Linked DNA regions of Homo sapiens. The protein of the gene in region 1 interacts with the protein of each later gene in a pairwise test. Each region holds a gene or a part of one and is shown in the gene's direction. Other genes may lie near its edges. The genes, in order: RXRA and JAZF1.

Region 1 (3,814 bases):
CCCGCTCGGGCCTGACGAGGGCGTCTTTTAGCGCGGGCGCTGCCCGACGGCAGGGTGTTTGTTTTGGTAAACTCTGGAGGGGCCCTGTTTGTTGACTGGGGAGGTGTCAGGGAGAGAAAAATGGCCCAGTCCGATGGTGGCCCTGGCTTGCTAGCCTCCAACCTTGCCTAGGGCTGGCTGCTGGGCCTGGACCCGAGCATGCAGCTGTGACCCTCTGCCCAGATGTGGATGGGACGAGCTGGGCCCCTAGGAAGGGCTGGTGGGGGGCGGGTGCTCTGAGTCCCTTGGGGTGTGGGGTGCAGGTTGAGCCGGCAGCCCTGGTCACGCGGGCAGCTGCTGTGACTGGCTCCCGGCTCTGCCAGCACCTGGTGGTTCTTCCAGCTGTGCCTGTCCTTCAGGGCCTGTGGGGGGCTCACCTCCACCAGGAGGCCCCTCTGACTGCCCTCTCTTGGCCCCTGCCCCATCTCCCCCGTGGCTGTGTGGGAGGTCGCTGTCAGTGGTCTTTGTTTCCTCCCCTGGGAAAGGGTGCCTGCAGGATTTGCTGTGGAATTACTGTGGGAACAGGGGGTACTCAGGGGTGTGCCCCTCTGCCCCTGGGGCCTGGTCGTGCATGTGGCAGGGGGCTCTGGCATCAGGAGAGGGTGGGACAGACCTCAGCTGCATGGAAGGTGGTGTGGGGGCGGGGTGAAAGCTTTACAGGTCCACCCAGTGCCAGTGGAGGCTGCCTGGGGAGTTTCCTTTCTTGGGTGACGTTTGGTTTTGCCATGGGTCAAATGTTTCAGGGCTGGGACCTCGAGTGGTGAGCAATGCCTGTCCTCTGGAGAAGAGGGCACAGCTGTCCCAGCAGACACAGGGCAGAGGCCCTCCCCAACCCCCAGCTGGCTCAGGGCTGGGACACTGTCCCTGGGACCCGGGCTTTGCAAGCCAAGACCTGCCCCTCCTTCCCTTCTCTGCCAGGCTTGAGTTTGTGTTTTTTAGCTGGCTTTGGTGGCCAGGGCCTTGGGTTGGCCTGTTAACTGGTGTGTTTTCATAGGAATTGGCCATTTGCTGGGCTAGGGATGAGGCTGGGGTCTAGGGCCACAAGGGCCTGGGGGGCTGGCCTGTGGCTGTTGGGGGCTGGTGTCCATTTGGGGGTCACCTTCCAGACCTTTGTCCTGAGATTCTTAAGCTGATCAGTTTCAGGGTGCTATGGTGTGGGTAGAGGGGTCACCCTCCTCCCCCCTGCACCTTGCCCACCTGCCTGTATGTTTCCATTTTATAGGGTGCAGCTCTGTCTTTCATCCTTCCTTCCTCTCCTCTGCCCCCTCCCATTCAGGGCCTTTGTTACCTGCAGGATGGAGGTGGTGGTGGTTTTGCAGGGATCAGCACCTTCCCAGGAAGAGGTTCTGACAGGTGGTGTCCCATTGCTGGGCGGGTGGTCAGGCCACCTGGGGTTGGGCCTTCTGTCCTCGCTGCCTGCCTGGTCTGCTCTTTGGCCTCTTGGGGCTTTGGCTGTCCATCTGAAAAATGGACATACTCATTGGCTCTTCCAAATGCTGGAGAAGGCAGCCTGGTGTGTTGTAGGCTGGCTGGGAGTTTGGGGAGTCTGTTTGTGGGGCGTTTCCCCTATCCTGTGGCTAGGTCCTCTCTGTGCCTCCTGCCTGGGTCAGGTGGGGCCAGGTTTCCAGCACTGGACCAGAACAGGCCATGATGGTCGCTGGGGGCTGTCAGGTGTAGAGGAACAGACTCAGGAATAGAGGACATCGGGGACACTGAGGTAGCCCTTTCTGTGGATATAGGCCTGCCACAGGAGAGCGCTCGCTGCTGCTGGGTCCTTGGGACCAGCCCCTGTGCCACTCCAGGGACCCTCCTCAGAGTCCCAAGAAGGCAGGTGGGGCGAGGGACCGCGGTTTGCACACCCACCCGAGCCTGGTGCGAGATGTTCTGAGCAGTTGTGCCCCAGCGCCTCACAGACAGGGAAATTGCGCCCTAGAGTTACAAAGCAATTGTCTAGCTCAGCAGCTGAATGAGCGTGAAATGGAGCAGAAAGCAGCTAAGGAAAATTGGCCCGGCCGCTGTGGGGAGAGCGGGTGCGGACCGCGTGCAGGGCTTGGGTGTGTGCACGCTCACTGTTGCACACACACAGAGTCACAGGCTCTCACCTGGCGCTGTTGGCCGCTGGCCCGTGTCCTGGCGTGCCCGTGAGTGAGCCAGGCCTCATGGGGTCCCCCAAGGATCATGGTGCTCCCTGCTGGGTTTGTTGGCCTCCTTTTTTTCTAAATCTCCCCAACTTGTCCAGGACTCACCCTACCCCCACGAAGGTGCCGATGGCTGCAGCGGGTGCCTGCTGCGTGCCAGGGACTTTATTTTTGGGACCTTGTGGAGGTGTCACAGAGACAAGCCCACTTAGTGGATGGGGACACTGAACCCTGGGTGAGGTCTGTGGGCCAGCCTTTGTGTCCCGCTGTGGGGCCTGCTTTTTCTCCGGCACTTGACTGGCGGGGGCCGCCTTGAGCTCCAGCTGGGAGGACCTGTCCCCAGGGTGGGGGCTCTGCTGCCCCTGGTCCTCCTGCCTCTCAGCATCCTCAGAGGCTGCTCACCGACCAGGCTGGGTCTATGCCCCATGCTGGTTCCCAGGAGCCCCATTGCTGGTCTTGGCCCGAGTGAGTGAGGTTTTTGTTCAGTGGGGACCCTGGTGGAGGGCTGAGGTCTCACCATGCCAGCTCTGTGCCCTGGGACTGGGCATCTTGGCCTCTTGTGCTGGTTGAAGGCCCTCTAAGGAGTGGCGACCCCTTGATCCTCACTCCAGGGTTGTCCTTGGCTTGGGGTGGTGGCTAGGAGAAGTCCCCACTCCCAGGTGGAAAGCTGTAGTTGGGTGAGCAGCAGAGGCCCAGCCTGGAACTGTGGCTTGCCCACCTCCTCATGCCACCAGGGCAGCACTGTCTGCAGCAAATTCCTGAGGTACCTGGGGGAGTGGACGGAGTGAGATTGGACCCCCGGGTCCCAGGGCAGGGCAGGGTAGGGGCACAGTTCTTTCTGAGGTCCTAACCCAGCACACGCGGCCCACCCCATGCATGCAGGCGTCCGCCGCAGCCTTCCCAGGGTGACCTGGCAGAGCCTTGACAACCCTGGCTGGGGAGGCGGGGATTGCTGGTGGGCTTGTCCACACGTGGCTTAGGGAGCGCCCGCTGGGTGCTGGCCTGGTCCTGCTGCCTGTGGAGGAGGGGTGGGGGAGGGGTGCCCAGAGGTAGGGACAGCAAGGTCTGGCCTGGAGGGGGTGAAGAGGGTGAGGACGCAAGGGTGGGGTTGCAGGGCTGGAACCAGGAGGGGGTTCACGTGTGAGGTGAGGCTGGGTAGGGCCTGTGTGCCGGGCGTAGGTGCATGGGTGCCCGGAGACTGGGGGATCCCAGTGTGGTGCTCATGGCTGGAATGAGGCCACCAGTGCTGTGCAGAGGGTGGTCTGGAGGCAGCCAGGCAAGGCCTGGAAGGAGGAAGTGACTCTCTCCAGGTGGCTCACTGGTTTCAGGTGGGCCTTGGGGCCCCTGTGAATGGCCTTGCACCCTTGCCCTGGCTGGGCTCCTCAGCATGGCAGCCTGGGAAGGGGGGAGGATTCCTAGCATCTTCCTGGGGGCTTAGGCCAGGTCCCTGGGCTGGCCTGGGGGTCGTCTTTCCCGGGCACGGGTATGGGTGAGGCACCTTTTCCCTGGCCCTGGCTCCGGCCCCCCCTGCACTCCCCAGGCTCTGGATGAAGTAGGGGGCAGGCCGTCCAGGGGGAGTAGAGCAGCCGGGCCTCTTGGGGCCGGATCAGGGATGCTGAGACCATGGAGGGGACCAG
Region 2 (3,814 bases), on another chromosome or scaffold:
TCTTCAGAAAATGGTTTCCTTTAGAGTTCATATATTTCGGAGATATCTCCTACGTTGACAGTTCTAGAAATACAAACTGACAGCTGTTTTGAGAAAACCCAATTCTTCCCGTAGGTGACAGTGAGGATACCTTAAGGCTGGCACAGGCTGGTGACACTTGATGAGGGGCTTCCCTGGGACTGTTTGGAAGCCAGAGGCCTGGTGTTGTAGACTGAGTCTGAGAGACAGGAGACAATGTTTCTGAATTCCTTAAAAATCCTCCTTTTCTAGTTTTAGCTTCTAGGGCAACAATCATACATACCCCACATTCCCTTATATTTCTCTACCCCATTCTTACCCCCGCCTTCAGATCTTGACAGTACAGACGTGTCCTGTGTACAAAGAAATACTTGCTGGATTGTAGATACTCATTTTGTTTCATGGTGAGGTAATAGATTTATTCCATGTTGACCTGGCTAACGTATTAAGTTGAAAAATGTTATTTATTTAGAATCTGAAGATAGGAAACCATAGATGTCAGAAATTTATTATGTGTGTATTTTTTAAAAGTGCCTTCCATTTAATATATTTAATTGCTGTAAAGAAAATTGTATTTTCCCCTCGCTGTAAGCACTGGAATGTTGCAGTAGTTTTCACCTACTTTTTTTTTTTTTTTTTTTTTTTTTTAAAGCTAGCTGCAAGCAGGGACCAGATTAGTGGATATCCTCTTTAAGGGTGAAGTCTTTCCAATTGCTGTCAACTTTGGCAGGAGTCAGAGGGACTCTTCTTGGGTCACTAACAATAGACTGTCTGCCCAGCACCAGAGAGCACTGATAGTCCCCTGACGGCCATTGTCCCTTGCCCAGCTCACCCACTGGCCTCCCAAGGAAGCACTGTTCATTGTCTGCCAGACTACAATGGTGACTTTCTCCTGAGATAGACCTCCTTGAAGGGACATGATCTGGATGCCAGGTTAATAACACTGAAAAATTCACCATTTCTTTGGTATTATAGATATAATTGATATATAGAAATAAATATATATTTTAGGCACAAAGGCATGTAGGATATCTAACACATATATAAATAATACATGTATATGTCTAATACACATACCACATATATGTGTGTACGTATATCCATATGTGTGTATATATTTATGTGTGTATATGTATACATTTGTATTATACATTTTTTCCCTCTCTTTCAAGATCACCATGGATAGTGAGGACAGCCACACATTTTTGAGTATTTCCTATGTTAGTGCTTAAGACAGTACTTCCTATCTCTAAGGATTTGAAATTTATTTGGAGAGACCAGACATGTACAGACTGAGATAAATAATGAATAATAATAGGGACCACAGAGGCAGATTTATTGTGAAGCTAATGAAGCTCCAGCCCCAGGGCCCCTGACTTGTACAACGCATTCCTTGCCGTTTTTGAATATATTGCCAGGGCCCACCCAGCACTTTCCAGGGCCCTGGAGGAGCCCTAGCAGTATACGTAGCTGGGCCTTCATGGGATCATAACTGGTAAAATTGGAAGAAGATTTTAAGCAATCCTTTAATGTTTTTCTTTCTCATTCTGACTTCCCTGCTGTCACATTTCTGTTTGGGTTTGATGACATTGGACTTGAAAGTGCTTTTGAGATATAGCTAGGGGGAAGTCGAATTGGGTCCACATTTTGTTTGGGTTTAGTGGGATGTATTTATGCAGTTCACAGTCATCTCTGTGTCAAGTTATCCCTAGCCATCCTAGTGTAGAAGTTGCTTCATAGGATCGCCACCCACCGTGCCAGCTTACCTGGGGTCCTTACACAAAGGGGAGGGTCAGAGAGAGAATTGCAGTGTTAACGGGTACCATGACATCTGCTGTGGGATGGTTTATGGTGCGTGGAGCCAGGTCTGTGGAGAATTCTTTCACTTGTTAGATGTGTAAAATTCTACGTGGAGGATTCAGTTCTTATCTAAGTGTAGTCAGTATGAAAATTCTCTTCTTTTAGGAATATACTCAATAATACAAATATACTATTAGAAATGCACCATTTTTAATGGGAATTCTGTGTTTAAGATTCTTGTTCATTTGACATGAATATGCCTGATACCAAAAATACTGACAACAAACTGGTTAATGAGTATCATTGATAAAAAGAATATTTAAAGTTAGTCATTGCACGAGAAAACTTGAAATGTCCTGGATTTTTATGGCTCATATGTGAAAGAAAATTAAGAGATGTGATTACAGGTTTGACAACAATCCTAAAAATGTATATGTCATTGCCAATAAAGAACTATAAGGCTAAAAGTAACTTTTCTGAATTGTCAATAATTAGGAATAAATTTTGATCACCCATGCTTGAGGGGAGATTGATTCATCTTTCTGCCCTGTGGAAAATGATATGAATATAAGTCATTGTGATATGAGGATTCATCAGAGTATACAGCCCAAAAGAAGTATTTATAGCAGTGTGTCAGGAAGTTAATTAATACACATACTGGGTTCTTTTCCTGGATTCTGATTTTAGGATGTTTTGGTATTGCGGCTTGTAAAATTTTGTGATTTGTTGTGATTTCTTAATCTCAATAGATAATCACTTTTGTAAACATTTTATAACATTCAATTTTTTTTCATAAGAAAAGTCTGAATCTGCAGGCCCACAAAACTTGGGTCTATTCCTTGAGCTCCCAATTCGGGAATCATTACTATATGTGCCACAGACAGTGCTAAATAATTTTTGTATAGTATTTCATTGGCCCTCACAGCAAGCCTGTGAAGTAGACATTACCCCCATCCTGTAAGTACTGCCTTCCGCTTTGGAGTTAAATATGCTACCATATTAGTTAAATAACACACTTAGTGAAATATGAACTAGAGTGTTTGTTTATATTGGTATAAAACAGAAATATTTTTCTTCAGGACAGAAAGCCTCTTTTACCTCAATAAATATCATTATTTTAATGGGTCTTCCCCTCTCTGTCCTGTAGCCCCTGCCCACAGCTGCACCAGCGGGGGTGTGCTCTGAACTGTGTGGTCACCTCCTGTGCACTGTTTCCTCCCCCAGAAACTCAGGGTCTTGTCATCATCCTATCCTCGTCCCCAAGACGTGTTTTCAGAAATGGTATGAAAATAAAAATTGAGAAGTACTTTGGGCTGTGAAAAAAATAAATTACAAAGGTAACTTTGGACAGTGAAAAACATCTTTGAAATTAATTTCTGTAGGTTTGCATCAATGAGGGCTGTATATTTATATGTTTATGTGTTTATGGCATTCACACAAATATCCATTATGCAATTAGTCCAGTATGGTTTATATTAAGGGAATCTGAAAGAGACTCTTTTTAAAGCTGATTTAAAAAGGAAATTGATTTTCCTTGTTAAATTGCCAGGGGTATTTGGTACACAGGAGGCAGAGGCCTGGGTGGTGAGAAGCATGGACTGTGAAGCTATACAGAATTGGATTTTGAATCCTCCTGATCTCACTAACTTGAGCTTTTCAAACTTGGGCAGCTCTTACAGTCTTATTTATATGAGATAGTAATACTATTATTTATTATTTGGGGGGATCCCGAGATTGATTTTCCTTTCACAGTACCTACTGGCTAGTTGCTTTAATATGCATTATGCAGTGTTAGTCCCATGCGACGCAGGAGGAAGCCAGGACACAGAGCAAAGAACAGCCAGGAAAATGCCCGGGGTAGCCAGGGCCGGCTTTGCTGCCAGGTGTGCCCATATACTCAGTGCTTGCTCTTTACAGCCTAAGTTGTGATCTTTTACAAGATGTTTGCATTTTCATTGAAGGCTCTTCCGCACCTGAAAGTCTTGGAGAAATAAAT

What was found.
Region 2: the proteins of RXRA (region 1) and JAZF1 interact in a two-hybrid assay, tested with the Homo sapiens proteins (one study listed by BioGRID).

The regions. Positions count from the first base shown.
Region 1 is NC_000009.12:134,329,322-134,333,135, forward strand, and holds part of RXRA (retinoic acid receptor RXR-alpha), read left to right. Parts: intron 1-3,814. UniProt on the Homo sapiens protein: Receptor for retinoic acid that acts as a transcription factor.
Region 2 is NC_000007.14:28,170,733-28,174,546, reverse strand, and holds part of JAZF1 (juxtaposed with another zinc finger protein 1), read left to right. Parts: intron 1-3,814. UniProt on the Homo sapiens protein: Acts as a transcriptional corepressor of orphan nuclear receptor NR2C2. Inhibits expression of the gluconeogenesis enzyme PCK2 through inhibition of NR2C2 activity.